Linked DNA regions of Homo sapiens: region 2 is linked to region 1. Evidence: fine-mapped expression QTL. A gene starts in region 1. The other region holds a variant in brackets. All regions are shown on one strand. Distances are between the middles of the regions.

Region 1 (16,436 bases):
GGAAGCTGAGATGGGAGGATTGCTTGAGGCTGAGAGGCAGAAGTTACAGTGAGCAGAGATCGAGACACTGCACTCCAGTGTGGGCGACAGAGTGAAACTCTGTCTATGAATAAATAAATAGAAGTATATGGTTAAATAAGTTTGATAAATGTGGATGGTTGTGTAGCTGCCACCACAATTCAGATATAGAACATTTTTGTCATCCAAATATTATGCAGAGAGGCCAGGTGCAGTGGATCATGCCTATAATCCCAGTGCTTTGGGATTCTGGGGATAGAAGGATCACTGGAAGCCAGGAGTTTGAGACCAGCCTGGGCAATACAGCAAGACATCATCTCTACAAAAATAATAATAATAATAAAGTAAAAATAGCCAGGTGTGGTGGTGTGCACCAATAGTCCCAGCTATTCAGGAGGCTGTGGCAGGAGGATCACTGAAGCCCAGGAGTTTGAGGCTGCAATGGGCTATGGTCACGCCACTGCGCTCCAGTCTAGGCAACAGAGTGAGACACCATCTCAAAAGAAGGAAAGAAGGTAGGAAGGGAGGAAGGGAGGGAGGGAGGGAGGGAGGGGAAAAAATATCTATTACCCAAGAAAGTTCCCTGAGGCCCTCCCAGGTCAGTCCCGTCCTCCTACTTGGCCCATGGCAACTGCTGATCTGTTTTCCATCCCTATCATTTTGGCTTTTCCAGAACATCAAGTAAATGGAACCATTCAGGTTGTGGCCTTCTATTAATAGATCTGACTTCACTCACTAAACATAATGCATCTGAGATCCATCCACGTTATTGCAAGCCTCAAGAGGTCCTTCCTTCCTTTTTCTTTTTTCTTTTTCTTTTTTTTTTTTTTGAGATGGAGTCTCACTCTGTCGCCCAGGCTGGAGTGCAGTGGCACGAGCTCGGCTCACTGCAAGCTCCGCCTCCCGGGTTCACGCCATTCTCCTGCCTCAGCCTCCTGAATAGCTGGGACTATTGGTGCACACCACCACACCTGGCTAATTTTTTTGTATTTTTAGTAGAGACTGGGTTTCACCCTGTTAGCCAGGATGGTCTTGATCTCCTGACCTCGTGATCTGCCCGCCTCGGCCTCCAAAAGTGCTGGGATTACAGGCATGAGCCACCACACCTGGTCCCCTTTTTTTTTGAGATGGGGTCTCACTGTCGCCCAGGCTGAGTGCAGTGGTATGATATCTTAATCCACCTTCTTAATCCGACTCACTGCAACCTCCGCCTCCTGGGTTCAAGCAATCCTCCTGCCTCAGCCTTCCAAGTACCTGAGATTACAGGTGCACACCACCATGCCCAGCTAATTTTTGTATTTTTAGTAGAGATAGGCTTTCATCTTGTTGGCCAGGCTGGTCTTGAACTCCCGGCCTCAAGTGATCCTCCCTCTTCAGCCTCCTAAAGTGCTGGGATTACAGTCATGAGCCACCGCACTCAGCAAAAGCTCCTTCCTTTTATTGCTAAGTAGTATTTCCCTGTAGGTCTAGATCTCAATTTGATGGACATATGGGTTGTTTCCAGTTTTTGGCAATTATGAATCAAGCTACTGTTTGTATTTGCATACAGGTCAGTCAGTGGACATATATTTTCATTTCTCTAGTTTGAGACCAGCCTGGGTAACGAGAGTGAAACTCTGTCTCAAAAAAAAAAAGAAAAGAAAAGAAAAAAAGAAAAAAGAAAAAAAACCCTGCTGTTTTAGTACTTAAAGTATCAACCACTACTCAAAGAATTGAGATAGGAGTACCCACTCGTCTAGGGTAATCAACCATCCTGGCTTGCCCAAGATTCTCCTGGTTTTAGCACTGAAGGTCCCACTTTCTGGGAAACCCTTCAGTCCTAGGATCAAACTAGGACAAGTGTGGTCACCTATTTTTTTTTTTTTTTTTCAGACAGAGTCTCTCTCTGTCTCCCAGGCTGGAGTGCAGAGGTGCGATTTTGGCTCAGTACAGCCTCCGCCTCCTGGGCTCAAGCAATTCTCCTGCCTCAGCCTCCCGAGTAGGTGGGATTACAGGCAGCTCCCCCCACCCCACACGCCCGGCTAATTTTTTTTGTATTTTTAGTAGAGACGGAGTTTCACCATGTTGGCCAGGCTGGTCTCGAACTCCTGACCTCAGATCATCCACCTGCCTCAGCCTCCCAAAGTGCTGGTATTACAGGCGTGAGCCATGTTATTGAATGTCAGGCTCTGCTGGACACTGCATGTCCAAACGTCATTTTACCCATGTGCCAGCGACAAGGTAGATTCGCTTGTACCAATTTTGCACATAAGGAAACAGCCTTAGAGAGGTTAGGTTGCTTGTGCAAGCCCAGGGTAGGTGGCACCCAGTCTGCCAGTCTGCAACGCACTGGTATCTTCCAGCCAGTAGACCTTGCTCCCTGGGTGCCCAGTTCTGGATCTCAGGAAAGGTGGATTAAGGCTCCTAGTGGCGGGACCTGGGTGGGGATTTGCTGCCCTCTGGTGGCAGAAGGGACATCACCCTGGGTGTGAGACTTGTGGGCATCTGTGAGGCGGCCTTTCATCCCAGGGAGCCGGACCTCAAATCTGACCTCAGCCCCAGGAAGGTGCCACCAGGAAGGTGCCACCTAGGAGGGTGCCACCAGGGTTCCCGCCAGGGTCTGCTGGGGCCCTGTCCCATCTGTGTGAGTCACATAATCACTCAGGCTGTCACAGACCCAGGGCTAGACTGCTGGGTTTGAGTCTGTGTGGCCCTGAGCCAATTGCTTTCTCCTCTGGGCCTCAGTTCCATTTCAGTAGAATCAGGATGATAGCCTGGGCAACATAGCAAGACTCCAGCTCTACCAAATAAATAAATAAATAAATAAATAAATAAATAAATAAATAAAATATTAGGCTGGGCAAGGTGGCTCACGCCTGTAATCCCAGCACTTTGGGAAGCTGAGGCGGGTGGATCACCTGAGATCAGGAGTTCGGGGCCAGCCTGGCCAACATGACGAAACCCTGTCTCTACTAAAAATACAAAAATTAGCCGGGCATGGTGGCGGGTGCCTGTAATCCCAGCTACTCAGGAGGCTGAGGCAGGAGAATCGCTGGAACCTGGGAGGCAGAGGTTGCAGTGAGCCGAGATCGCGCCATTGCACTCCAGCCTGGGTGACAAGAGAGAAACTCCCTCTCAAAAAATAAAAATAAAAAGTTAGCTGAGTGTGGTGGCACCAGCCTGTTGTCATAGCTACTCAGGAGTCCAAGGCTGAAGAATTGCTTGAGGTCAGCCTGGGAAACATAGCAATACCCCATGTCTACAAAAAATGTGAAAAATTAGCTGGGCATAGTGGTACCTGCCTGTAGCCCTAGCTTTTCTGGACACTGAGTCAGGAGGATCCCTTGAGCCCAGGAGTTCGAGGCTGCAGTTAGCTATACTGGCACCACCGCACTCCAGCCTGGTGACAGAGTGAGACCCCGTCTATTGAAAAACATATATCTGCTGATAAATATGTCCACAATTTAGACCAGACTTAGACACTGAAGTTATTACCAGCTCCTTCACACCCACATGCCTTAACTCTCTCTTGCCTTCATGCATTCCTTCACTCCATTCATTCGCTTAACTTTCATCCAGCAGATATCTGCCAAGCACCAGCTCTGTGACAGACACTGAGGCTGGGGGTGCCAGGGAGACCTTTACCAACCGGACAGACACTGCCCCGCACTCCTGGCTCTGTGGCTTTCTGATAGTCCGTGGCCTCACATGTTCATTTATTAAGTGTCCTTTTATTGATTGAGTCTTCATTCTTTCTCTTAATGTCCTTATTCATTCATTCATCCATCACTTGCTCATCTCACTGACACGTCTATTCAGTCTTCATATATGTTTTCATTCCTTTATTCTCCAAGCATCCTGGAAGTACCCACTCTACACCATGCCAGGGTTAGATGCTGGGATTCTGGCCCAGCCCACCACACTGCCAAGCCCATGGGGACACAGATGGTGAGGACATAGTGGTAACTACTTCACCAGTTATTGGGATTCAGAGCTGGGAGAGCACCAAGAAGGGAGCAATTCACTTCCTGGAAGTGAGGGGTGGGAGAGGCAATCTGAGAAGGCTTCTTGGAGGAGGTAGCATTTTGGCCAAGTTGAGAAGCCTGTATGGGAGTTCTCCAAGGAGGAAAAGATGCTTTGTTTTGTAGACAAAAACCTTCGTTCTGTGGAGTGTTTGGAGAAAAGTGAGGTACTGGTTGCTAATGTGTGTGATCCTGGGTGAGTTTGTGTGCATGGCCCCAGCCAGGCCAAGCCCTCCCCAGGTTCCAGTGACAGACCTGGGCCACTAAGGACCCTTAATTCCACCCTGAGCTCCTAGAAAACCACCCACTATTGGGCAGCCAGGAATGACCTTTGGAGAACAAACACTTCACCCTCCAGGTACCATCCACTTGTCCACCTGTTCATCCTCTTGGGGACTCAGTGGGAGGGCGACCCTGTCCCTAGGAGCCCATGTCCCTCCAGCAAATGTTTCTTTTATTTTTATTTTTATTTATTTATTTATTTTGAGACAGAGTCTTGCTCTGTCGCCCAGGCTGGAGTGCAAAGGCGTAATCTTAGCTCACTGCAACCTCTGCCTCCCAGGTTCAAGCAATTCTCCAGCCTCAGCCTCCCGAGTAGCTGGGATTACAGGTGTGCACCACCACGCCTGGCTATTTTTTGTATTTCTAGTAGAGACGGGGTTTCACCATGTTGGCCAGGCTGGTCTCAAACTCCTGACCTCAGGTGATCTGCCCACCTCGGCCTCCCAAAGTGCTGGGATTACAGGCATGAGCCACCACACCAGGTTTTTGTGGTCACGGAATGGTCTTGTGTGATGTTGGTGTCCTGGAAATTACTTTTGTTTGACAAGAGAACACCAAGACCCAGCTGTGAATGTCTGTCCAGCTCCCAGGGAAACAGAACAGGAACTGGACAGAGCTTCTCCTTCACATCCTTTCCCTTTTTCCTTCTTTTGTCCCACTGATCACAAAACCCACACCATTGCCTCGCTGACAATATAGCTGCTAACCCCGAGGCTTTAGTCATACAAAGAAAATAAAGAACGAAACTGTCTCAAAAAAAAAAAAAAAAAAAAAAGAATTCCAGAGACTGGCCTTAGGAGATCCAAATATCAAATGAAGCTTGCGGAGTGTCCCACCTCGGGAAGGAATGCTGAACAATTGATTGACACCCTTGTTGCCACCAGCCAGACTACCAGGTGACTCATTACTTAAGATAACCATCGCAACCAGATATGCGACCTGCATACCCTCAAAACCAGATATGCGACCTGCATACCCTCACGTGCTTTGCCCAGCCCAGCCTGCATACCCTACCCCTGATGTCAATTCCCATGCTTTGCCTAATAAAAAAAATTCCCAGCCAGGCGCAGTGGCTTATGCCTGTAATCCCAGCACTTTGGGAGGCCGAGGCGGGCGAACCATGAGGTCAGGAGATTGAGACCATCCTGGCCAACATGGTGAAACCCTGTCTCTACTAAAAGACAAAAAATTAGCCGGGCGTGGTGGCGTGCACCTGTAGTCCCAGCTACTCGGGAGGCTGAGGCAGGAGAATTGCTTGAACCTGGGAAACGGAGGTGCAGTGAGCTGAGTTCGCACCACTGCACTCCAGCCTGGCGACAGAGCAACACTCTGTCTCACAAAAAAAAAAAAAATTCCCCACTGGCTCTTCCACAAGTCAGCTGGAGGATCCCTTCACTTCTGCTTCCATTGTCTTCCCTGCACTCAAGCACAAGCTCTGAAATAAATGCCTTGTCTGGGAAATCTGCTTGGATCCCTGTTAAGTTTCATTACAAGGGGAGCCAAACAGCCTATGGTCTGTAACACCAAATGTATGTGAGCAACAGCTTTTCTCTTTCTCTTTCTCTCTCTAATTTTTTTTTCTTTTTCTTTTTCTTTTTTTTAGACACAGAGTCTTGCTCTGTCACCCAGGCTGGAGTGCAGTGGCACGATCTTGGCTCACAGCAACCTCCATCTCCCAGTTTCAAGCTATTCTCCTGTCTCAGCCTCCTGAATAGCTGGGATTACAGGCACACACCACCACACCTGGCTAATTTTTGTATTTTTAATAGAGATGGGGTTTCACCATGTTGGCCATGCTGGTCTCAAACTCCTGACTTCAAGTGATCTGCCCATCTCGGCCTCCCAAAACGTTGGGATTACACGTGTGAGCCACCATGCCGGGCCTTTTCTGTTTCTCAATGTCAACTAAACAAAAAATCAGGCTTTTAAAAAATTAAGGTTGGTTTTTTGCAATCTTACTGAGGACTGTAACCAGGGAAAGTCTTTCACAGAGTTTGTTAAACTGCTCCAAAACAGAGTTTCAGCACACATTTATATATTTATATTTATATACAGTTTATATAAAAACATTTATATACAGTTGGTGGTGCCCTGCATGTGCTCAGAAGTTATATCAAGCTGGGCGTGGTGGCTCATGCCTATAATCCCAGCACTTTGGGAGGCTGAGGCGGGTGGATCACCTGATGTCAGGAGTTCGAGACAAGCCTGGCCAACATGGTGAAACTCCATCTCTACTAAAAATACAATAATTAGCCAGGCGTGGTGGCGTGCACCTGTATTCCCAGCTACTCAGGAGACTGAAGCAGGAGGATCACTTGAACCTGGGAGGCAGAGGCTGCAGTCAGCCGAGATTGCATCACTGAGCTCTAGCCTGGGGGACAGAGTGAGACTCTGTCTCAAAAAAAAAAAAAAAAAGTTATATCTAATGTGCTCAGAAGTTAACAATAGAGCAAAATTTCATCAAGGCTGTGTGTGAGGGTATTATCTAGTTACAGATTACAGAGGCTTGGCTGGGCATGGTGACTTAACACCTATAATTTCAGCACTTTCGGAGGCCCAGGCAGGAGGATCGCTTGAGCCCAGGAGTTCAAGACCAGCCTGGGCATCACAGCAACACCTTGTCTCTGCAAAAAATAAAAATAAAAAATTAACTGGGTGTGGTGGCATGCGCCTGTAGTCTCAGCTACTCAGGAGGCTGAGGTGGGAGGAGTGCCTGAACCCGGGAGTTCAAGGCAGCAGTGACCTATGATCGAGCCCCTGCACTCCAGCCTGGGCAACCAAGCGAGACCCTGTCTCTAAAAAAAAAAAAAAAGTTATAGAAGCATAATCATTAATCCCGTCAGAGATTATGTACAGGAAGAGGCAGGGGCTAGGATCATTGAACTTGTCTTTTCTAAAAATGCAGTGTTCAGGCAAGAGAGGTGGAAACCTGTGTTCTCTCTCGCTCTTCCCAGCTTATTGTTCAGGGCGTTATTGGAGAGGGCTGCGCTCAGTCACCGAGTCACGGCCTTTGTGAAATCCTGCTCGCAAGCAGAATGAGCAGACATGGTTCCTTAGGTTTATTACTGTGCCTCACACTACGAGACGGTCATTCATTGGCAGAGGTGTATTTGCGGGGGGCCAGGTATAGAGTAATTCAAGGCGGACAAAGGAGGAATGTCCCAGTCTTCAGGAAGCTCAGTGACATGTTTGCGCTGTCTTATGTAAACAGGAGATTGTCAGAAATGGAGGAGGGGGCACCAGATCCAAGGAAGTGCCCGGACAAAGCCGGGAGGCGAGGAGAGCCGACGGGGAGGAGGTGCCGAGAGCATCAGCGGGGCTGCTCGGTGGCACGAAGACGCCCGCGGGGACTGGAGAGGTCGGCTAGGGCCAGGCTACTCAGGCACGGAGGGCCACCTCCCCTTCAGGGACGTGAGCATCTAGCTGCACTGATTTGTTGTTCAGGAACAGGAAATGAAACCCCGCAGCTTTGAACACAATAACCCACGCCAGCCTCAGGCTCATGAATATTCAGCAGGCTGCTTGCGCCTTGCAACCCCGCCTCCGTTCCCCTCTGCGGAGACTGCGTATGCGTCGCCGGCGCGCGGCTGTGTCGTCATACTTGCGCGCCGACGCCGCCGCTCGCTTGTGAAACTGGAAGGCTGCCATGGCTAGCCCAGCCGCCTCCTCGGTGCGACCACCGAGGCCCAAGAAAGAGCCGCAGACGCTCGTCATCCCCAAGAATGCGGCGGAGGAGCAGAAGCTCAAGCTGGAGCGGCTCATGAAGAACCCGGTGAGACGAGGCCCAGGCTCCACGGCCCGTCCGAGGCCCACCCCCTTCCTCTGCAGCGCTTCAGGGTTCCCGCAGGTCCACCTTCCCCGCCTCCAAACTCAGAAACTCAGTATCCGACCCTCCAAGAGCAGTCTTTGGGGAGGAGGAGGAGAAGGAGGCTGTCCCGGAGATAGTGAACTTCCCGTCTGTCCTTGTGTGAGAGCCCAGCTTGAATCAAAGCACGGTGGAGCGGCTTCCCGTGCTCCAAGACCCCTTCTGGTTTAACTTTCTGTGAACAAAAAGCGTTAGACTGAAAAGGTAGAATTTGTGGGTTAGCAAAAGGGTATACTCTAAACAACACTGATCGTTAGAGAGACAGTGGCCGAGACGTTTGGAGCTGGTCACTCCTCTCCCGCTCACACCCCCTCTGGGCCTCGGTCCCCTCAATCATAAAAACAATTGAACGGGAACGTCCTTTATACCTTTAACTAGAAAAGCTTGACTCTTCTTATCTAGTAGTGTTAAAGTTGGCGGTTTCTAGCTGGAAACTATGGCTTAGGTTTTTCAGTTCTGCTCTGGAAAGCGTAGCCCTGGGAAGGTGTGGACTGTGTTATACCCAAGAGTACATAGGATGAAAAAAGCCACGACAGAGGGAAGAACACAAAATCAGCTCTGTGTCCAAGTAGCAAAGCAGTCCTGCTTCATTAGTCAATTAAAATTCTTTGGTCTTAAGAGATGTAACTTGGGCTGGGTGCTGTGGCCCCTGCCTGTAATTTCAGCGCTTTGGGAGGCCAGGCGGGAGGATGGTCCGAGGCCAGGAAGGAGTTCAAGACCAGCCTGGGCAACATAGTGGGTCCCTGTCTTTACAAAAATAAAAAAATTGCCTGGTGTGGTGGTGTACGCCTGAGAGTCCTAACTATTCTGGAGACTGAACCGGGAGGATCACTTGAGCCCAGGAGTTCAAGGCTGCAGTGAGCTCTGATTGCACCACTGCACTCCAGCCTGAGGAACAGAGCAAGAACCTGTCTCTAAAAAAAGAGAGGGAGATATATAATTTTGTCAACAGGTTTATACTTAAATGCTTTCATGTTTAAATGTTGCAGGACAAAGCAGTTCCAATTCCAGAGAAAATGAGTGAATGGGCACCTCGACCTCCCCCAGAATTTGTCCGAGATGTCATGGGTAATGGCTGTGTGTGTGTGTGTGTGTGTGTGTGTGTGTAAATATAATTTTTTAAGGTAGCTATAGGCTGGGCGTGGTGGCTCATGCCTCTAATCCCAGCACTTTGGGAGGCCGAGGCGGGCGGATCATGAGGTCAGGAGATCGAGACCATCCTGGCTAACACGGTGAAACCCCGTCTCTACTAAAAATACAAAAAAAATTAGCCGGGCGTGGTGGCAGGCACCTGTAGTCCCAGCTACTTGGGAGGCTGAGGCAGGAGAATGGCGTGAACCCAGGAGGCGGAGCTTGCAGTGAGCCGAGATGGCGCCACTGCACTCCATCCTGGGCAACAGAGCGACATTCTGTCTCAAAAAGAAAAAAAAAAGGTAGCTATAAAAATCCTGTAGTTGGTATTTGTTAAATCTCTGATGAGGGGAAATGTGTGTTCACATGTTCGTGTTTTGCTTTTACAATGACGGGGATATAGTTGCTTTTATTTGTTTTTCATTTGACATTGGTAAATTTAGCTTAAGGGCTATAGTTGCTTATGGTTTGGCACTATAGAATTTTCTCCTGCAGTATTGCGGTTTTTTTTGTTTTTGTTTTTGTTTTTGTTTTTCTTTTGGAGACAGAGTCTCACTCTGTCACCCAGGCTGTAGTGCAGTGACACCATCTCGGCTCACTGCAACCTCCGCCTTCCGGGTTCAAGCGATTCTCCTGCCTTAGCCTCCTGAGTAGCTAGGACTACAGGCCCGTGCCACCATGCCTGGCTGATTGTTTTATTTTTAGTAGAGACTGGGTTTCACTATGTTGGCCAGGCTGGTCTTGAACTCCTGACCTCAGGTGATCCGCCCGCCTCAGCCTCCCAAAATGCTAGGATTACAGCTGTGAACCACAGTGCCCGGCCATCTCCTGCATTATTCTTAATAACGCATTGTGGTTTTTTTGTAAATAAAAATAGTTTTATTATTTTGTTGGATCATAAATTAACATATCTACAGGCTTACCATGGAGATGGTGCGGGTTTAGTTCCAGGCAACCTAGTTAAAGTGAATGTCGCAATAAAGGGAATCATGTAAATTCTTTAGTTTCCCACTGCACATACAAGTTTTCTTTATACTCTACTGTAGTTTAATGTGCAATAGCATTATGTCTTTAAAAAGCAACATAGGCCAGGCACGGTGGCTCGTGCCTGTAATCCCAGCACTTTGGGAGGCCGAGACAGGAGAATTGCTCGAGTTTGAGACCAGCCTGGGCAACACAGGAAGACCTCATCTCTACTAAAAATGTAAAAATTAGCCAGGCATAGTGGTGCATGCCTCTGGTCCCAGCTACTTGGGAAGCTGAGGCAGGAGGATGGCTTGAGCCCAGGAGGTTGAGGCTCCAATGAGCTGTGATTGCGCCACTGCCCTCCATCTTGGGTGACAGAGCAAGGCCCTGTCTCAAAAAAAAGAAAAAAGCTGAAGAAAAAACACTTTTACAAAAATATGATTGTTCTACATATACAACTTTGTAAGCACCTTTATTTCATTTAATGTATCATGGATGTCTTTTCAACTCACTAGAAATTTAGCGTGTCAAATGTGAAATCATGGAGGAGGTGAGAAAGTCACTTAACCACAGTCTGCCCCTCCTGATACTGCATTTGAGTGGGATTTTTAGTGACTTTACATTCAACATTCATAGAACAAATAATTCACGACATCTACAATATGCCAGGTACTGGGCCAGTTCTGGATACAGTGGGGAGAAAGGAAGGCATGGTCCCTTCCACGACTTCCACTTTTTGTTTCTTTAGTCACCCTCGATTAAGGGTGACCTGTGTTGGTAACTGAATTTCATCTAGAACTGTGGACTGTTCTGGCTACAGGTTCAAGTGCTGGGGCCGGCAGTGGAGAGTTCCACGTGTACAGACATCTGCGCCGGAGAGAATATCAGCGACAGGACTACATGGATGCCATGGCTGAGAAGGTCAGTGAGCCAGAAGGCTGGCTGAGCCCCCATGTTTGGGCAGTGTGCGTGTACTTTCTTTAGAAAAAAGCATTTGAAGAGGCTGGGCGTGGTGGCTCAGGCCTGTAATCCCAGCACTTTGGAAGGCCGAGGCAGGGGATCACCTGAGGTCGGGAGTTTGAGACCAGCCTGACCAACATGGAGAAACTCTGTCTCTACTAAAAATACAAAATTAGCCAGGTGCATGCTTGTAATCCCAGCTACTCAGGAGGCTGAGGCAGGAGAATCTCTTGAACCCAAGAGATGGAGGTTGCAGTGAGCCAAGATCGTGCCATTGCACTCCAGCCTGGGCAACAAGAGCGAAACTCCATCTCAAAAAAAAAAAAAAAGAGAGAAAAGAAAAGAAAAAAGCGTTTGAGGAAGAATAGATACTGCTAGTTGTGGCTGGTGTGAGGTCTGCCTTCTACGGACAGCACAAAATGCAGAGTCTCTACTAAAAATACAAAACCCCGTCTCTACTAAAAATACAGAAATTAGCTGGGCGTGGTGGTGGGCAACTGTAGTCCCAGCTACTTAGGAGGCTGAGGCAGGAGAATTGCTGGAACGTGGGAGGTGGAGGTTGCAGTGAGCCTAGATTGCACCATTGCATGCCAGCCTGGGCGACAGAGTGAAACTCCATCTCAAAAAAAGGAAAAAAAAAATAACACCAAGAAATAATCATAAAATATTGTAATATTTAGCCATAAAAAGGAACAAACTACTGATCTGTACAGCAACTGGGATGAATCTTTAAACATGGTGAGTAAAAGAAGCCTTGCACGAAAGAGACCATATTGTGTAATTTCATTTATATGACGTTTTAGAGCAGGTACAATTAGTTTGTGTGAGAAAAAAAAACTGGTTATCTGGTTGGGGTCACGGTTGACTGGGAAAAGACGTATGAGGGGACTTTCTGGGGTGATCAAACTGTACACTCGAGATCTGGGCATTTGGTTCTGTGTAGATACTAACTTTATTTATTATTTTGAGATGGAGTTTTGCTCTTGTTGCCCAGGCTGAGAGCAGTGGGGTGATCTTGGCTCACTGCAACCTCCACCTCCCAGTTTCAAGTGGTTCTCCTGCCTCAGCTTCCTGAGTAGCTGGGACTATAGGCACAACCCCCATGCCTGGCTAATTTTTTGTATTTTTAGTAGAGATGGGGTTTCAGTATGTTGGCCAGGCTGGTCTTGAACTCCTGACCTCAAGTGATCCACCTGCCTCGGCCTCCCAAAGTGCTGGGATTACAGGCGTGAGCCACCATGCCCGGCCAGCTATTACTTTAAAAGGAAGAAGAAAAGCATACACAAATATGAAACCCTATTTAATAACGTGCATGCTTGAATGTTCAAGAATGGAACTTCCCGATGTCTGCAGCTTACTTTGAAATGCACCAAAACAAACAAACAAAAAAATGATGAATTAGTGGAGGAATAGATGTATGAGTAGAGCTCTGGAAGGGAGGAATCATAATTTTCCCCATTTTATAGATGAGGAAAATGAGGCTTGGAAACAGGACTGCTGGGAAGACATAATACAGTGCATACCAATAGAGGTATGGATAGATCAATAGGTGTGTGATAAAGAAAATCCAGCACAACAGGAATTGTTGAGTCAAAGAGCAGTGGATATATCTGCTGTATAATTCTTTTAACTTTTCTGTTTGAAATTTTCAAAATAAAACATTAGGGAAAATTTAAACCAAAGAGACAGCCAGGATACAGAAGAAAATATGTAAGAATTTATTGGAATGGCCAAAATTGAGTTAGAAAAAATTCTGCTTTGGGGGGCCAGCCGTGGTGGCTCATGCCTGTAATCCCAGCACTTTAGGAGGCCAAGGTGGGTGGATCACTTGAGGTCAGGATTTCAAGACCAGCCTGGCCAACATGGTGAGACCCCATCTCTACTAAAAATACAAAATTAGCCGGGCGTGGTGGCACATGCCTATAATCCCAGCTACTCGGGAGGCTGAGGCAGGAGAATCGCTTGAACCCAGGAGTTGGAGGTTGCGGTGAGCTGAGATTGCGCCATTACACTCCAGCCTGGGCAACAAGAGTGAAACTCTGTCTCAAAAAAAACAAAAACAAAAATTAACCAGGCGCAGTGGTGCACACCTGTAATCCCAGCTACTTGGGAGGCTGAGGCAGGAGAATCACTTGAACCTGGGAGACGGAAGTTGCAGTGAGCTGAGATTGTGCCACTGCACTCCAGCCTGGGCGACAGAGTGAGACTCCTTCTGAAAAAAGAAGAAGAAAAAATGTCCTGCTCTGGAAACAGAATGGGGTCATTGTTGTGCTGGCTGTCAACTGATACTTGCTTGTCCTGTAGTTTTTCCTGGCCCCTGGGTGTTGGTGGTTCTTCTTGTTTCTGCCATCTTTTGTTGGTAACAGTCTCAATCCTAGTGAGAAGTATTAGACAGTTTTTGTCACAAAATTCTACCAGGTCACTGCAGTGGGTTTGCCTGTCAAAAATAATGCTCTGTGTATAGAAACCATCAAGCTGGGTGCGGCAGCTCACATCAGTAATCCCAGCACTTTGGAAGGCCAAGGTGGGAAGATCACTTGAGCCCAGGAGTTTGAACCCAGGCAACGTGGCAAGACCCCATCTCTACAAAGAATACAAAGACTAGCCAGATGTGGTGGTAGCCACCTGTAGTCCCAGCTGCTTGGGAGGCTGAGGCAGGAGGATCGCTTGAGCCTGGACGGTCAAGGCTGCAGTGAGCTGTGATCACACCCTGTACTCTAGCCTGAGTTAGTGAGCCAGACGCTGTCTCAAAAAGAAAGAAAGGGGGTGGGGGGTGGAGTGAGGGAGGGAGAGAAAGGAAAAGAAACTACTATCAGAAGAAACACTTTTATAAACTATTTTAGAGGGGAGGACATAGAGTAGGTTGCTGTCTCAAACACTATAAATTCGTCTGAAGTTTTTATGTATTGATTCAAGATTCAGAGAAAATACAGAAAAATGTTTCACAAACCTTGGCCTCTATGCAAATGCAAAGATTCTTATTTTGGATGGCAAAAGACAGTCTCTGAGATTTAAAAAAAAGGCAAGCACGTCCTCATTTTTTAGTGACAGATCACCTCCATCAGAGCCCAGTCCCACTCACCCCTGCTTGAGACATTGCCTCTGCCAGGTGCGGCAGCCAGCGGGGGCTCTGTTTAGTTCACTTGCTGGTAAATTTGGCTTCTTCAGCAGCACAGAGTAAGACATTCACGGCTCAGCTTTTTTTTTTTCTCTGAGACAGAGTCTCACTCTGTCACCCAGGCTGGAGTGTAATCTTGGCTTGCTGCAGCCTCTGCCTCCTGGGTTCAAGCAATTCTAGTGTCTCAGCCTCCCGAGTACCTGGGATTACAGGTGCCTGCCACCTGGCCTGGCTAATTTTTGTGTTTTTAGTAGAGACAGGGTTTCACCATGTTGCCCACACTGGTCTCGAACTCTGGACCTCAGGTGATCTGCCCACCTCAGCTTCCCAGTGTGCTGGGATTACAGGAGTGAGCCACCGCACCCGGACTTCACAGCTCAGCTTCTAAGCAAATCAGATCTTTTAGATTTAAGTCATTTGCTTTTTGGTTGTCCAGAAAGTTGATTAATTAAAGTTGATTTCCTTCCTGAAGGAATATTTTCTGCCCTCAGAGAGAGGGCTTGTTTGGTTTGGTTTCTGTGCCACTGTAAGCAGATGCGTACAGCCCTGGCGGTGCAGACCAGCAGAGGTGTTGAAGGCACCTCTTCCTCCTTTGCCGGCTCCTTATTTTTTGCTCCATTGACCTTTATGGCTGTGACTGGAAGAAACAAGAGATGACACTTTGAATCAGTAGATGTCTTTGTAGTTTACAGGTGGTTTTCTATTTTTTTTGAGACAGTCTCCCTCTGCCGCCTAGACTGGTGTGCAGTGGCGCAATTTCCGGTCTCTGCAACCTCTGCCTCTTGGGTTCAAGTGATTCTCCTGTCTCAGCCTCCTGAGTATCAGCCTCCCAAAGTACTGGGATTACAGGCATGAGCCATTGTGCCCAAACCCTTATTTCATTATTGTTCCTAACAGCTCTGGGAGAGAGGAATTACAATTTTCCCCATTTTATAGATGAGTAGACTGAGGCTTGGAGACAGAACTGCTGAGAAGAAGTAATGCAGTACTTACAAATATCTGTGTGGGTGTGGGTGTGTGCTTAGCAGCAGGTCATGGCAGCAGATGGCGTGTGTTACGCTGCTTTAGAATCAGTCATTTGGTGGCTGGGCACAGTGGCCTGTAATCTCAGCACTTTGGGAGGCTGAGGTGGGAGGATCCTTTCAGGCCAGGAATTTAAAACCAGCCTGGACAACATAGCCAGACCTGTCTCTACAAAATAAACATAAAAATTAGCCAGATGTAATGGCATGCACCCATAGTCCCAAGTACTCAGGAGACTGAGACAGGACGATCTATCAAGCCCAGGAGTTCAAGGTTGTAGTGAGCTATTGTGCCACTGCACTCCAGCCTAGGCGACAGAGTAAGACCTTGTCTCAAAACAAAAACAAAAAAACTCAGCCATTTGGTAACTATGGTTGGGCTTAGGGCTTGAAAATTCCATGGTTCTGACCCTCCGGCCATTCATTCTGATGAGCTCTGGGCAGTATCCAAGGCCCCGGCTGAGCAGATGGTGAGCGCTGCCCTCAGAGTGTCCTCTGCACTCCCTCCTGTATTGTCTCCTATATTGTGCTATGCATGAGTGGTGCCTCAGTCAACTAAAAGAGTTACTTCGCCATCGGAGACCTATGTATTGATTACCTGCCCTGCCTCTGGGACAGCCTTTTAAAGTTAAAATGGCCCTGGGGACCCGGGTAGTGCCTCCGTCACCCCCAGTGGTGTGACTTCTAGAACTCTCCTACTTTGCCTGAGCAAAACCTCCCACAGTCTGCCCAGACCAGAGCGTGTCTAAATGATGTGGGTTTTGTTGCAGCAAAAATTGGATGCAGAGTTTCAGAAAAGACTGGAAAAGAATAAAATTGCTGCAGAGGAGCAGACCGCAAAGCGCCGGAAGAAGCGGTAAGCGGCATGGCCTAACTGTGATGACACTTAAGGGCCAGGGGTGGTGGCTGGGTGAGCTGTCCTTGCAGTCAGTAGTAGTTCCTCTGCATGACCTGTAGGGGTCATGAATGTAGAGCAATGACTTCTACTACCTGAGCAGAGAGCAAGTTCCTTATGACCCTCCAACTGGTTACAGATTGTCCAGAGCTTGCAAGTCAGGACTTCAGTGATCACA
Region 2 (13,040 bases), 44 kb after region 1:
TCAAGACCCAGCTCCAGGCAGACAGACATCGTTTCCTCCACAATCCCACCCACTCTGGGGACATCTGCAGGGCCTCACCGATGGGGCATGGGAGGCCTGGCGGCTCCCAGGAAGCCACCCTCAGCCCTCACTGCCCTGAGCTCTTCACCTCCACTCTCAGACCTGAGCCCAGCCCACCCTTACTGATGGGGCATCCCTCTTGTTCACCCTTCCTTCCTTTGGAGGCCACCAGGCTCTCCCTTGCGTCCCACTCCTGCCAGTCGGCCAGCCATTTCCCTGGGTTGAACTGTGGTCCCAAACCAGAATGATCTAGCAGTGCCCAGACCGTTCCACTCACCAATTTCTTCCATTCTCCTGTGGCTGGACGCCCAGTCATGCTGCCCAGACCCTCTGGCTCATTCCACAGCCCCAGGCTCCAAGTGTCTTCCACCCACATCTCCCTGCCCCCTCCACCCCCCAGGTGGCAGCCAGTCTTCCCTCCATATCTCCTGGACAAGGAGAGCCACCCCACATGTACACCTGGAGTGGCCTTCCCGTCTCTCGGAATCCTTCCATGCAGGCAGCATCTTGTCTTTGAGGAAAGGTCCCTCTTTTTTAAAATTCTTTTTAGAGGCCAGGCGCAGTGGTTCATGCCTATAATCTCAGCACTTTGGGAGGCCAAGGTGGGCGGATCACTTGAGCTCAGGAGTTCTAGACCAGCCTGGCCAACATAGCAAAACCCTGTCTCTACCAAAAATACCAAAAATTAGCCAGGTATGGTGGCACACACATGTAGTCCCAGCTACTCGGGTGGTTGAGGCGGGAGGATCGCTTGAGCCTGGGAGGTAGAATTTGCAGGGAGCTGAGATTGTGCCACTGCACTCCAGCCTTGGTAACACAGCAGGACCCCATGTCAAAAAAAATTATTTTTAGAGACAGCGTCTTACTCTGTTGCCTAGGCTGGTCTCCAGCTCCTGGCCGCAGGTGATCCTCCCACCTTGGCCTCACAAAACACTGGGATTACAGGCATGAGGCACTTTGGCATGCAAAGGGCCGCTCTGTCCCCTCCCCGGTGTTACCTGCAAGCACCTTTTCCTGGCCTTGGTGTGAGGCAGCCAGTCCTCTGCTCCCTGCCCTCCATTGAAGCCTTTAGCTCAGTGGATGAGGATTGCCCCCCCCTCTTTTTTTTTTTTTTTTTTGAGATGGAGTCTCGCTCTGTTGCCCAGGCTGGAGTGCAGTGGTGTGCTCTTGGCTCACTGCAACCTCTGCCACCACACCCAGCTATTTTTTTTTTTTTAAGACAGAGTCTCACTGTGTCACCCAGGCTGGAGTGCCGCGGTAGGATCTCAGCTCACTGCAACCTCCGCCTCCTGGGATCAGGCAATTCTCCTGCCTCAGCCTCCTGAGTAGCTGGGATTACAGGCGCCCACCACCATGCCCAGTTACTTTTTGTATTTTTAGAAGAGACAGGTTTCCACCATGTTGTCCAGGCTAGTCTCGAACTCCTGACCTCTAGTGATCCGCCCACCTCAGCCTCCCAAAGATGACAGGTGTGAGCTACTGCTCCTGACCCACATCCCCTTACCTTGCTCCCCTACTGGGAGGCCATGAATTCTGGCCTCTTTCATCTTGGATCTTTAAGTACCAAGTGCGCTAAGCACCTGTGTGATGGAGGAGGGAGGACGGAGGGAGCAAAGGTTAGCGTCTCACCCCTCCAGTCTCTGTATACTGCGGTCATCAGACCTGCATGCTCAATTCTGTTAACTATGGGGGTGGGGGGAGAGGAAAAATGCAGTTTCCAAATTACAGCATTTTCTATTATGTGGAGCTAACCTACGGATTGCAGCGTTTCTCTGAATTCTCCCCAAGGGAAGGAACGTCCCAGGGATGGAAGTGCTTGGATGCGGTGCTGCTGGCTGCGGATGTGCGCAAGGAGATGGGATGGAGAGCCTGAGTTGGCATTCGTATAAATGACCTGGTAATTGGCATCCCCTGGCAGAAATAGCACAGAACTGTTCCCAGAGGTCTTGTTGGCCAGGGAAGGCTGTGGCTTTGTAGCCTTGTTGAGAACAAAGGGAAAGGCGACACTGTTTTCCACCTCCAGCACCTTCCTGCGTAATTTCCAAATTGGGGCATTTTCAATTATGGGGGGCTCGACTCTGGCATGGATGGACTAAGTTTGGGGCATTTCCTCAGCTGCTGACCCTGTTAAGCACTCCCCACTCCACCCGTCCACCCCAGCCACGCTCCCTGGGACCTAGAAACACGGATCTGTGTGTAACAGCCTGACATAGACTTTCCGTGGGGCCTATGTGGGCCTGGACATAGAAGTTACTCTTTTCGTTTCTTTTTTTTCTTTTCTTTTCTTTTTTTGAGACGGAATCCTGCTCTGTCACCCAGGCTGGAGTGCAGTGGCGCAATCTTGGCTCACTGCAACCTCCGCCTTCTGGGTTCAAGCGATTCTCTTGCCTCAGCCTCCCGAGTAGCCGGGATTACAGGAGCCCGCCACCACACCTGGCTAATTTTTGTATTTTTAGTGGAGACAGGGTTTCACCATGTTGGCCAGGCTGGAAAAGTCACTCTTTTTGATGTCAAGTAAACCACAAGATGCCTGTGCCCTTGAAGCACGCCCTGCAGATTAATTAGAACTGGATCCTGGCGTGTGGCCGAGCAGCCCAGCTCCTTGGGACACACGCGACCGCCAATCCCCTACTTAGTGGAGATTTGGGTTTAAATTCACAAATCTTGACAGATCTGTCCTTCTGATGTTTAATCCGTGTTAGTCAAACCAGATGTTTACCAGGTGTGAGTCCAGGCATCTCCGCCTTCTGTTTCTCCTTAAAATGTGGTCATGTGAGTTGGTGGATTTCATTTTTCATCTTGCTAAAAGTTTGCCTTGTAGCTTGGATGTGGCTTTAGTTATGTAAGTCCAATATTTTTCTTAGGGTGAACTGTACTGATCAAAATTTAAGTTGAAGGCCAGGTGCGGTGGCTCACACCTGTAATCCCATCACTTTGGGAGGCTGAGACGGGCAGATCACCTGAGCTCTGGAGTTCAAGACCAGGCTGGCCAACATGGCGAAACCCTGTCTCTACTAAAAATATAAAAATTAGCCAGGCATGGTGGCACATGCCTGTAATCCCAGCTACTCGGGAGGCTGAGGCAGGAGAACGGCTTCAACCCAGGAGGCGGAGGTTGCAGTGAGCCGAAATTGCGCCACTTCACTCTAGCCTGGGTGACAGAGCGAGACTCTGTCTCAAAAAATAAATAAATTTAGAAAATAATAAAATGTAAGTTGGATCTGTGAAACTAGCAGCTACTTGGAAATGTTTATTCCATGGCTGGCACCTGGATGTTGGAAGAAGTCTTTCGTCTTCAGATGCATTATCTTATTCAAAAGCCCTAGAGGTGAGGCCGGGTGCAGTGGCCCACACGTGTAATCCCAGCACTTTGGGAGGTGTAAGAGGGAGGATCACTTGAGGCTAGGAGTTCAAGACCAGCCTGGGCAATATAGTGAGATTCCCGTCTCTAGGAAAAATTAAAACATTAGCAGGCATGGTCCTGTGCTTATGGTCCTAGCTCCTCAGAAGGCTGAGGCAGAAGCTTCCCTTGAACCTAAGAGTTCGAGGCTGCAGTGAGCTGTGATCGTACCACTGCACTCCAGCCTGGGCAACAGAATGAGACTCTGTCTCTATTTTTAAAAAAAGTAGGCTGGACGCGGTGGGTCACACCTGTAATCCCAGCACTTTGGGAGGCTGAGGCAGGTGGATCACCTGAGGTCAGGAGTTTGAGACCAGCCTGGCCAACATGGTGAAACTCCATCTCTACTAGGAATACAAAAATTAGCCAGCTATGGTGGCGGGCGTCTGTAGTCCCAGGTACTTGGGAGGCTGAGGCAGGAGAATCGCTTGAAGCCGGGAGTCAGAGATTGCACCACTGCACTCCAGCCTGGGCAACTCGGCGAGACTGTCTCAAAAAAATATATCAAATCAAATAAAATAAAAATAAATAAAAAGTCCTACAGGTGGAAATATCCCCATTCTCACGATGAAAGAGCCAGGTCAGAAAGGTCAGCTGTCATGCTCAGAATCACACAGTAGAGTCAAATCCAGGTTTCATAACTTTAGGTCCTGGAAGGCTGGGCGCAGTGGCGCATACCTATAATCCCAGCAGTTTGGGAGGCTGAGGCAGGCAGATCACTTGAGGTCAGGAGTTCGAGACCAGCCTGGCCAACATGATGAAACCCCGTCTCTACTAAAAATACAAAAATTAGCCAGGCGTGGTGGCGGACACATAATCCCAGCTACTCAGGAGACTGAAGCAGGAGAATTGCTTGAACCTAGGAGCTGGAGTTTCCAATGAGGTGAGATTGCCCCACTGCACTCCAGCCTGGACGACAGAGTGAGACACTGTCTCAAAAACAAACAAACAAAGAAACATAACTTTAGGTCCTGGGCACTTTCTAAACCCCTGGGCTCTGGCGTGGGCTGTATATGGCAGCCTCTGTAGGTTGAATGGGCTTGGAGTCTAGCTCTTCCAGGCCGCAGTAACCTAGGATGTCTGAGCATGTCTCTCTCCCACCCTTAGCCTGGCTCCCACCATGAGTGCTGAGCTTAACGTGCCTATCGACCCCTCTGCTCCTGCCTGCCCTGAGCCCGGCCATAAGGGCATGGATTACCGGGACTGGGTCCGCCGCAGCTACCTGGAACTGGTCACCTCTAACCACCACTCGGTACAGGCCCTGTCGTGGCGGAAGCTCTACCTGAGCAGGGCCAAGCTGAAGGCCTCCAGCAGGACCTCCGCCCTCCTCTCCGGCTTTGCCATGGTGAGTGTGGGCGCCAAGTGAGGAGCACACTGGTCAGATGGGCTTTGCTAACTGAGGTCCCGGGATGCCTCAGGGACCAGAGCCTTCCCTCCAGTCTCTGGCAGCCAGGATGGACCAGTAGGAAGCATCCACCCACGTCCCAGCTGCTCTAAGAGGACGACTCTATCAGTGCGAGTGGGGGCGCTGGGAGTTGCCAGGGGCTCCCAGCTCTAGAATCTTCAGAAAGCCCACTTTGTCCTGTTCACATCAAGTATTTGCTTAGCAAGGAGGGAGGTTGGTGCGGGGTAATTATAGTAGCTCAGGTTCTGTGACTCACACCTGTAATCCCAGCACTTTGGGAGGCCAAGGTGGGAGGATAGCTTGAGGCCAGGAGTTTGAGACCAGCCTGGGCAACACAGGGAGACCCCTGTCTTTACAAAAATAAAATAAATAATTAGCCGGACGTGGTGGCGTGCACCTATAGCCCCAGCTACTTGGGAGGCTGAGGCAGGAGGATCACTTGAGTCCAGGAGGTGGAGGCCTCAATGAGTTATGTCCACACGACTGCACTCCAGCCTGGACGTCAGAGTGAGACCCCATCTCTAAAAAGAAAAAATAAAATTTATTTATTTATTTTGGCCAGGCGTGTTGGCTCACACCTGTAATCCTAACACTTTGGGAGGCCGAGGTGAGTGGATCACTTGAGATCAGGAGTTCGAGACCAGCCTGGCCAACATGGTGAAACACCGTCTCTACTAAAAGTACAAAAAAATTAGCTGGGTATGGTAGCAGGCGCCTGTAATCCCAGCTACTTGGGAGGCTGAGACACAAGAATCGCTTGAACCTGGGAGGCCGGAGGTTGCAGTGAGCCAAGGTCACGCCACTATACTCCAGCTGGTCAAGAGTGAGACTTTGTCTCGAAATAAATAGATTAATTAATTAAAAAGATAAAATCAAATCAAATCGCTGCATGGTACAGGGTTTCCTGAGAAAAGGCGCCCATGTCTGCCCCGTCTCAGGCACCACCCAAAAGTTTGGAACTCTCAGGGATCTCTGAGCAGGGCCTCAGAGATTGATTGGGGTTGGATCAGTTTAGCCCAGTTAGCGATGCAGACGTTCCTGGAATCTGGCCTCCAGGGTGACAAAGGAGAGCTTTTGGCCTGGCTCCCAGCGGCCGCCTTCCTTCTGAGTCATCCCCTAGGACAAGAGTCAGTTTCCGACAAAGCTGCGGCTCTGACAAGGGGCCCATCTCCTGTTGACTCCAAAGCCGCTGACCCACACCCCTGGAGGGAATTGTCCCAGAGGTTAAGGACTCACAGTGAGGACACAACAGTATGCTCACAGGTCCTATTGGGTGGAAGTGATTTATTTGTTTTTTGTTTTGTTTTTAGAGACAGGGTCCCACTCTGTTGCCCAGGCTGGAGAGGGCGGTGGTGTGATCATGGCTCACTGCAGCCTCTACCTCCTGAGCTCAAGCCATCCTCCTGCCTCAGTCTCCTGAGTAGCTGGAATTATAGGCACGTGCCACCATGCCTGGCTAATTTTTTTTTTCTTTTTTCAGAGACAAGTTCTCTGCTCTGTTGCCTAGGCTGGAGTGCGGGGGTGCAATCATGGCTCACTGCAGTCTTGAACTCTCAAGTGATTTTCCCACCTCGGCCTCCCAAAGTGCTAGCATTGCACCTTGTCCAGCCTGTTTCCTTATGTGAAAACAATTATTGTTTTTCTTTTTGTTTGTTTTTGTTTTTGTTTTGAGATGGAGTCTTGCTCTGTCACCCAGGCTGGAGTGCAGTGGTGTGATTTCAGCTCACTGCAGCCTCTGCCTCCTGGATTCAAGCGATTCTCCTGCCTCAGCCTTTCGAGTAGCTGGGACTACAGGCACACATCACCACGCCCAGCTAATTTTGATATTCTTAGTAGAGATGGGGTTTCACCATGTTGGCCAGGCTGGGCTCGAACTCCTGACCTCAGGTGATCCGCCACCCTCGGCCTCCCAAAGTGCTGGGATTACAGGCAGGAGCCACCGTGCCCAGCCTCTATTGTTTTTCTGTAGGCCGGAGCCTCAATTGTTAGATTGATGGTGCAATTTAAAAGAAAAAGCTGGCTGGGTGTGGTGGCTCACGCCTGTAATCCCAGCACTTTGGGAGGCTGAGGTGGGCAGATCACCTGGTCAGGAGTTCGAGACCAGCCTGGCCAACATGGTGACACCCCGTCTCTACTAAAAATACAAAAATTAGCTGGACGTGGCGGCAGATGCCTGTAATCCCAGCTACTCCAGAGGCTGAGACGGAGAATTGCTTGAACCCGGGAGGCGGAGGTTGCACTGAGCCGAGATTGCATCACTGCACTCCAGCCTGGGCCATAGAGCGAGACTGCATCTCAAAAAAAAAAAAAAGAAAAAAAAAAAACCAGAGGTGGCTCTTGCTATGTTGCCCAGGCTGGTTTTTTTTTTCTTTAATTATTGTTATTTTTTTCTTCACCTTATACCAAGGGAGAAATATTGTTGTTTCATTTTGTTTTTTTCCCCCAAGTATTTTTGACCTGCGGTTGGTTGAATCTGCAGATGTGGAACTCATAGATACAGAGCACCAGCTGCAGTGGGAAGCAAGTGAACCATCTGGCGTGGAGCTGAGCCTTGGGGGAGCCGCAGTGCACCTGCTTGATTAGATTAGCATAGCGCCATCCGGTCAGATCGTTCTTCACACTGCAGGGCAGCCTGGGAAAAATAAGTGACAAATACAAATCATCAGAAACTGTAGCTGAGTCGGGGCAGGGCCCTGGGAACAGGCAAAGGTACAGATTGCTGGGTAGAGTTCGCCCTTTATAGTGTGTCTTCCCTCATTAGAATTGCAAAGCTGTTCCTTTGTCTAGCAACACGTGCTTATGCCTAACCTGAAGCTTAGTTCTTGATGCGTATTCTTCCCCCAACACAGAGAACCAGTGATCCAAGGCCCCACCTCATAAAACCTCTGCATAGGCCAGGCGGGGTGGCTCACGCCTGTAATCCCAGCACTTTGGGAGGCTGAGGTGGGCGGATCACTTGAGGTCAGGAGTTCCAGATCAGCCTGGCCAACATGGGGAAACCCTGTCCCTACTAAAAATATGAAAAGGAGGGCCGGGCGCCATGGTTCATGCCTATAATCCCAGCACTTTGGGAGGCCACGGTGAGCAGATCACTTGAGGTCAGGAGTTGGAGACCAGCCTGGCCGATCTGGTGAAACACTGTCTCTACTAAAAATACAAGAATTAGGCTGGGCGCAGTGGCTCACACCTGTAATCTGAGCACTTTGGGAGGCCGAGGCGGGCAGATCACGAGGTCAGGAAATGGAGACCATCCTGGCTAACACAGTGAAACCCCATCTCTACTAAAAATACAAAGATCAGCCATGCGTGGTGGCACACGCCTGTAGTCCCAGCTACTCGGGAGGCTGAGGCACGAGAATCACTTGAACCCGGGAGGCAAAGGTTGCAGTGAGCCAAGATCGCTCTACTGCACTCCAGCCTCGGTGGCAGAGCAGGACTCC[G/A]TCTCAAAAAACAAAAAAACAAAAATTAGCCAGGCGTGGTGGCTGGCACCTGTAACCCCAGCTTCTCGGGAGGCTGAAGTGGGAGGATCACTTGAATCCGGAAAGGGGAAGTTGGAGTGAGCCGAGAACATGCCACTGCACTCCACCCTGGGCAACAGAGAGGGAGACTCCGTCTCAAAAAAAAAAAAAAACATTAGCCGTGGTGGCGCATGCCTGTAGTCCCAGCTATTGGGGAGACTGAGGAAGGAGAATCACTTGAACCCGGGAAGCAGAGGTTGCAGTGAGCCGAGACAGCGCCACTGCACTCCAGCCTGGGCAACAGAGCAAGACTCTGTCTCAATAAAAAAAAAAAAATTAATTTAAATTTAAAAAATGCTGCATAAACACAGTGAAAAATTGCCTTCTCTTTTCTTCTTCTTCTTCTTCTTCTTCTTCTTCTTCTTCTTCTTCTTTTTTTTTTTTTTAATAGAGATGGGGTCTCGTTTTGTTGCCTGGGCTGGTCTTGAACTCCTGGGCTTAAGTGATCTCCCGCCTCAGCTTCCCAAAGTGCTGAGATCACAGGTGTGAGCCACCTCACTCAGCCCCTTTTCTCCTTTTTTTTTTTTTTTTTTGAGACGGAATCTTGCGCTGTCTGTCGCCCAGGCTGGAGTGCAGTGGCGCGATCTCGGCTCACTGCAAACTCCACCTTCCGGGTTCACGCCATTCTCCTGCCTCAGCCTCCCAAGTAGCTGGGACTACAGGCGCCCGCTTTTCTCCTTTTAAGGTGGAACAAAACCACTTTTTGCAAGCCCTGCCCCTACCTCATAATCATCTTTATTTCCTGTCTTGGAGGCCTCTGTGGTTTGTAATATTTGTCACTTGGGCCATTTCCTTTGAGGTGACCATAGCCAACCCAGGGCCACACTGAGAAAAACCACCCCTCAGCCCATGTTCCGTGGCTACTGGTTTTTGGATACGTTTCACAAGGGCCCCAACTGTATTACTGCTGAGTTGTTTTTCGGCTCTGGTCCACTAGGACTGCCATGTCTTCTTTTTTCTTTTTTGAGATGTAGTCTCGCTCTGTCTCCCAGGCTGGAGCACAATGGCACGATCTTGGCTCACTGCAACCTTTGCGTCCCGGGTTCAAGAGATTCTCCTGCCTCAGCCTCCCGAGTAGTTGGGATTACAGGCACCCACCACCACGCCCAGCTAATTTTTGTATTTTTAGTAGAGATGGGGTTTTACCATGTTGGTCAGGCTGGTCTCGAACTCCTGACCTCAGGTGATCCGCCCACCTCGGCCTCCCAAAGTGCTGGGATTACAGGCACCCGGCCATATCTTCTTTTATCTAGGAAGTGTTCCCTCACCACTGAAAGCGAGGTGAAGAAATGAGCTGCTAAGAGGTGGCAGTTGCTGAAGGACATTATGAAATCTTCATATATATTATTTTATTTTATCTTTTACTTTATTTTTTCCCCAGACAGGATATCGCTCCATTGCCCAGGCTGGGGTGCAGTGGTACATTCATAGCTCACTGCAGCCTCTAACTCCGGGGCCCAGCCTTGTGAGTTATTTTTTTATTTTATTTTATTTTATTTATTTATTTTTTTGTGGCAGGGTCTCACTCTGTCTCCCAGGCTGGAGTGCAGTGGCATGATCTCAGCTCACTGAAACCCCTGCCCGCCAGATTCAAGCGATTCTCCTGCCTCAGCCTCCCAAGTAGCTGGGATTACAGGCACGAGCCACCATGCCCGGTTCATTTTTGTATTTTTCACAGAGAAAGAGTTTTGCCATATTGGCCAGGCTGGTCTCCAACTCCTGACCTCAAGTGATCCGCCCCCCCCCGCCCCCCACCCTCCAGCCTCTTAAAGTGCTGGGATTACAGGCATGAGCCACCGCACCTGGCCTGAGTTTTGTTGTTTTTTTTTCTTTAAACAGGGATGGCTTAGGTCTAGGAGGGAAACAGTGGAAACAGTGGGTAGAAGAACCTTCCCCAGGCTTCTTCTTTTTTTTTTTTTTTTTTGAGACAAAGTCCTGCTCTGTCACTTAGGCTGGAGTGCAGTGGCATGATCTCCATTCACTGCAACCTCTGCTTCCTAGGTTCAAGTGATTCTCCTGCCTCCGCTTCCTGAGTAGCTGGGATTACAGATGCCCACCACCACGTCCAGCTAATTTTTTGTATTTTTAGTAAAGACGGGGTTTCACCATGCGGGCCAGGCTGGTCTTGAACTCCTGACCTCAAGTGATCCACCCACCTCGGCCTCCCAAAGTGCTGGGATTATAGGTGTGAGCCACCGCGCCTGGCTGACCTCACATTTCAAGACACCAAGCAGAGCCTGCCGTTCCTTGGTTTGTTCGTTTTAGACTCTACCTGCTGTAGCCTCCGACTACGGTTGATGATTTTGCTTCCTTAGCAGACCCAGCCATGCCTCCTTTCCACAGCTTCCCTCCTCACCCTCGGCCTCACTTCCGTCACCTTTCCCGAGCTTTAGAGATGCCGGCTCTCACTGGGCTTTTGGCCTCTGCTGAGGAGGCACCATGTGGTCTGTCTGAGGCCATCCAGGTGTGCAGCTCTGAGTCTGGGGACTCTCCGCACTTTCAGTTGTTCTGTTTTAAAAGGTCAGTTTCCGTTTTTTGTTTTTTTTTTTTGTCAAGATGGGCTGTCACTATGTTGCCTAGGCTGGTCTCAAACTCCTGGGCTCAAGCGATCCTCCTGCCTCTGCCTCCCAAAGTGCTGGGATTACAGGCATGAATCATCGTGCCTGGTCAGTTTTTACCTTTTGAAAGGTCAGTTTCCTTTTTTTGTAGAGACGAGGTCTCACTCTGTCACCCGGGCTGAAGTGTAGTGGTGTGATCATAGCTCACTGCAGCCTGTTATCTCCCGGGTTCAAGCGATCCTCCCACCTCAGTCTCCTCAGTAGCTGGGACTACAGGCATGTGCCACCATGCCCGGCTAATTTTGTATTTTTTATAGAGACAGGGTCTCCTTCTGTCCCCCAGGCTGGAGTGCAGTGGTGCAATCGGGGCTCCCAGCAGCCTGGAATTCCTGGCCTCAAGTGATCTTCCTGCCTCAACCTCCCAAACCACTGGGATTACAGGCATGAACCATTGTACCCAGCCAGTTTTTCACTTCTTTCTTTTGTTTCCTTCCTTCCTTCCTCCCTCCCTCCCTTTTCTCTTTCTTTTCTTTCTTTTCCTTCTTTCTTTTTCTTTTCTTTCTCTCTCTTTCTTTCTCTCTTTCTCTTTCTCTCTCTTTCTTTCTTTCCTTTCTTTTCTTTCTTTAACTTTCGTGGCTTGTTTTCTTTTGAGACAGAGTCTCACTGTGTCACCCAGGCTGGAGTGCAGTGGTGAAATCTTGCCTCACTGCAACCTCCACCTCCCAGGTTCAAGTGATTCTCCTGCCTCAGCCTCCCGAGTAGCTGGGATTACAGGTGCCTGCCACCACGCCCGGCTGCTTTTTGTATTTTTAGTAGAGACAGGGTTTCACCATGTTGGCCAGGCTGGTCTCCAGCTCCTGGCCTCAAGTGATCCACCAGCCTTGGCCTCTCAAAGTGCTGGGATTATAGGCGTGAGCGACCACGCTGGCCTCTTCTGTACTGTTGAGATGTTTTTCTCAGTGCAGTCTTCTTTAGATAATTAGAACAAAGGAAAATGTGAAACATTTGATCAGTGAGGAGGTTGCCCTCTGGTCTTCCAGGGCCCAGAACATGGGTGAGTCCTGCCAGCAGGCAAGCCCATGGCTACCCTGTCCCCCGAACCTGGCCCAGCCCCTGCTCTGCCTGGCAGGTGGCCCTGGTGGGGCCATACCTTGCCCTCTCCACACCCAGCACCACTCGTCTGCTGTCCCCGCAGGTGGCCATGGTGGAGGTGCAGCTGGAGACGCAGTACCAGTACCCGCGGCCGCTGCTGATTGCCTTCAGCGCCTGCACCACGGTGCTGGTGGCCGTGCACCTGTTCGCCCTCCTCATCAGCACCTGCATCCTGCCCAATGTGGAGGCCGTGAGCAACATCCACAACCTGAACTCCATCAGCGAGTCCCCGCATGAGCGCATGCACCCCTACATCGAGCTGGCCTGGGGCTTCTCCACCGTGCTTGGCATCCTACTCTTCCTGGCCGAGGTGGTGCTGCTCTGCTGGATCAAGTTCCTCCCCGTGGATGCCCGGCGCCAGCCTGGCCCCCCACCTGGCCCTGGGAGTCACACGGGCTGGCAGGCCGCCCTGGTGTCCACCATCATCATGGTGCCCGTGGGCCTCATCTTCGTGGTCTTCACCATCCACTTCTACCGCTCCCTGGTGCGCCACAAAACGGAGCGCCACAACCGCGAGATCGAGGAGCTCCACAAGCTCAAGGTCCAGCTGGACGGGCATGAGCGCAGCCTGCAGGTCTTGTGAGGGGCCGAGGGCCGGGGCTGGGAGCGGCCCTGTGCCCGGGAGTCCGCAGAGGCGGGGATTTGTCAGATGCAGACATTTTGCAAGGCTGCCGGGTAGTTCAAGACCAAAGTTTTCCTCTTGTCTTAATACCATAAGGACTGGATGACTTCTCCTGAGATAGAACCGTTTGGTTCAATGAGGGACTGTGTTGCTAAGAGCGTTGGGGGCAAAGCCAGGCTGGTTCCTTGGCCTCGGGGTTTCCTGGGTCGGGGACACGGTGAAGAGGCTCCAGCGGGACCTGCCCATCAGTCCTGGGCCAGGAGGGGCTCCAAGCAGCACCCAGCGGTCCGGGGGAGTCTCAGACCCGGCATGCGTGGCTGGCAGA

Evidence for each region. PIP is the estimated chance that this variant, and not a neighbour inherited with it, causes the effect.
Region 2: its variant is fine-mapped to the expression of PRKRIP1 in whole blood (TOPMed, PIP 0.97).

Annotation. Positions count from the first base shown.
Region 1 is chr7:102,388,465-102,404,900 of GRCh38, forward strand. PRKRIP1 (PRKR interacting protein 1) reads left to right here and starts at 7,899. Exons shown (of 6, transcript NM_024653.4): 1 at 7,899-8,073; 2 at 9,156-9,234; 3 at 11,084-11,184; 4 at 16,134-16,219. The coding sequence starts at 7,948. It overlaps LOC100630923 (LOC100289561-PRKRIP1 readthrough), which reads left to right. Exons shown (of 9, transcript NR_038967.1): 5 at 9,156-9,234; 6 at 11,084-11,184; 7 at 16,134-16,219. RefSeq lists a silencer at 7,755-7,834 and enhancers at 7,855-8,094, 7,876-8,417.
Region 2 is chr7:102,434,377-102,447,416 of GRCh38, forward strand. It overlaps ORAI2 (ORAI calcium release-activated calcium modulator 2), which reads left to right. Exons shown (of 4, transcript NM_001126340.3): 2 at 1,849-1,957; 3 at 4,568-4,805; 4 at 12,137-13,040. The coding sequence starts at 4,581. The coding sequence ends at 12,676. Among named protein-coding and RNA genes, the nearest start is that of ORAI2, 7.3 kb to the left of the region's middle. RefSeq lists enhancers at 10,667-10,746, 12,116-12,663. The variant G/A (reference allele first, on the strand shown) is at 8,306.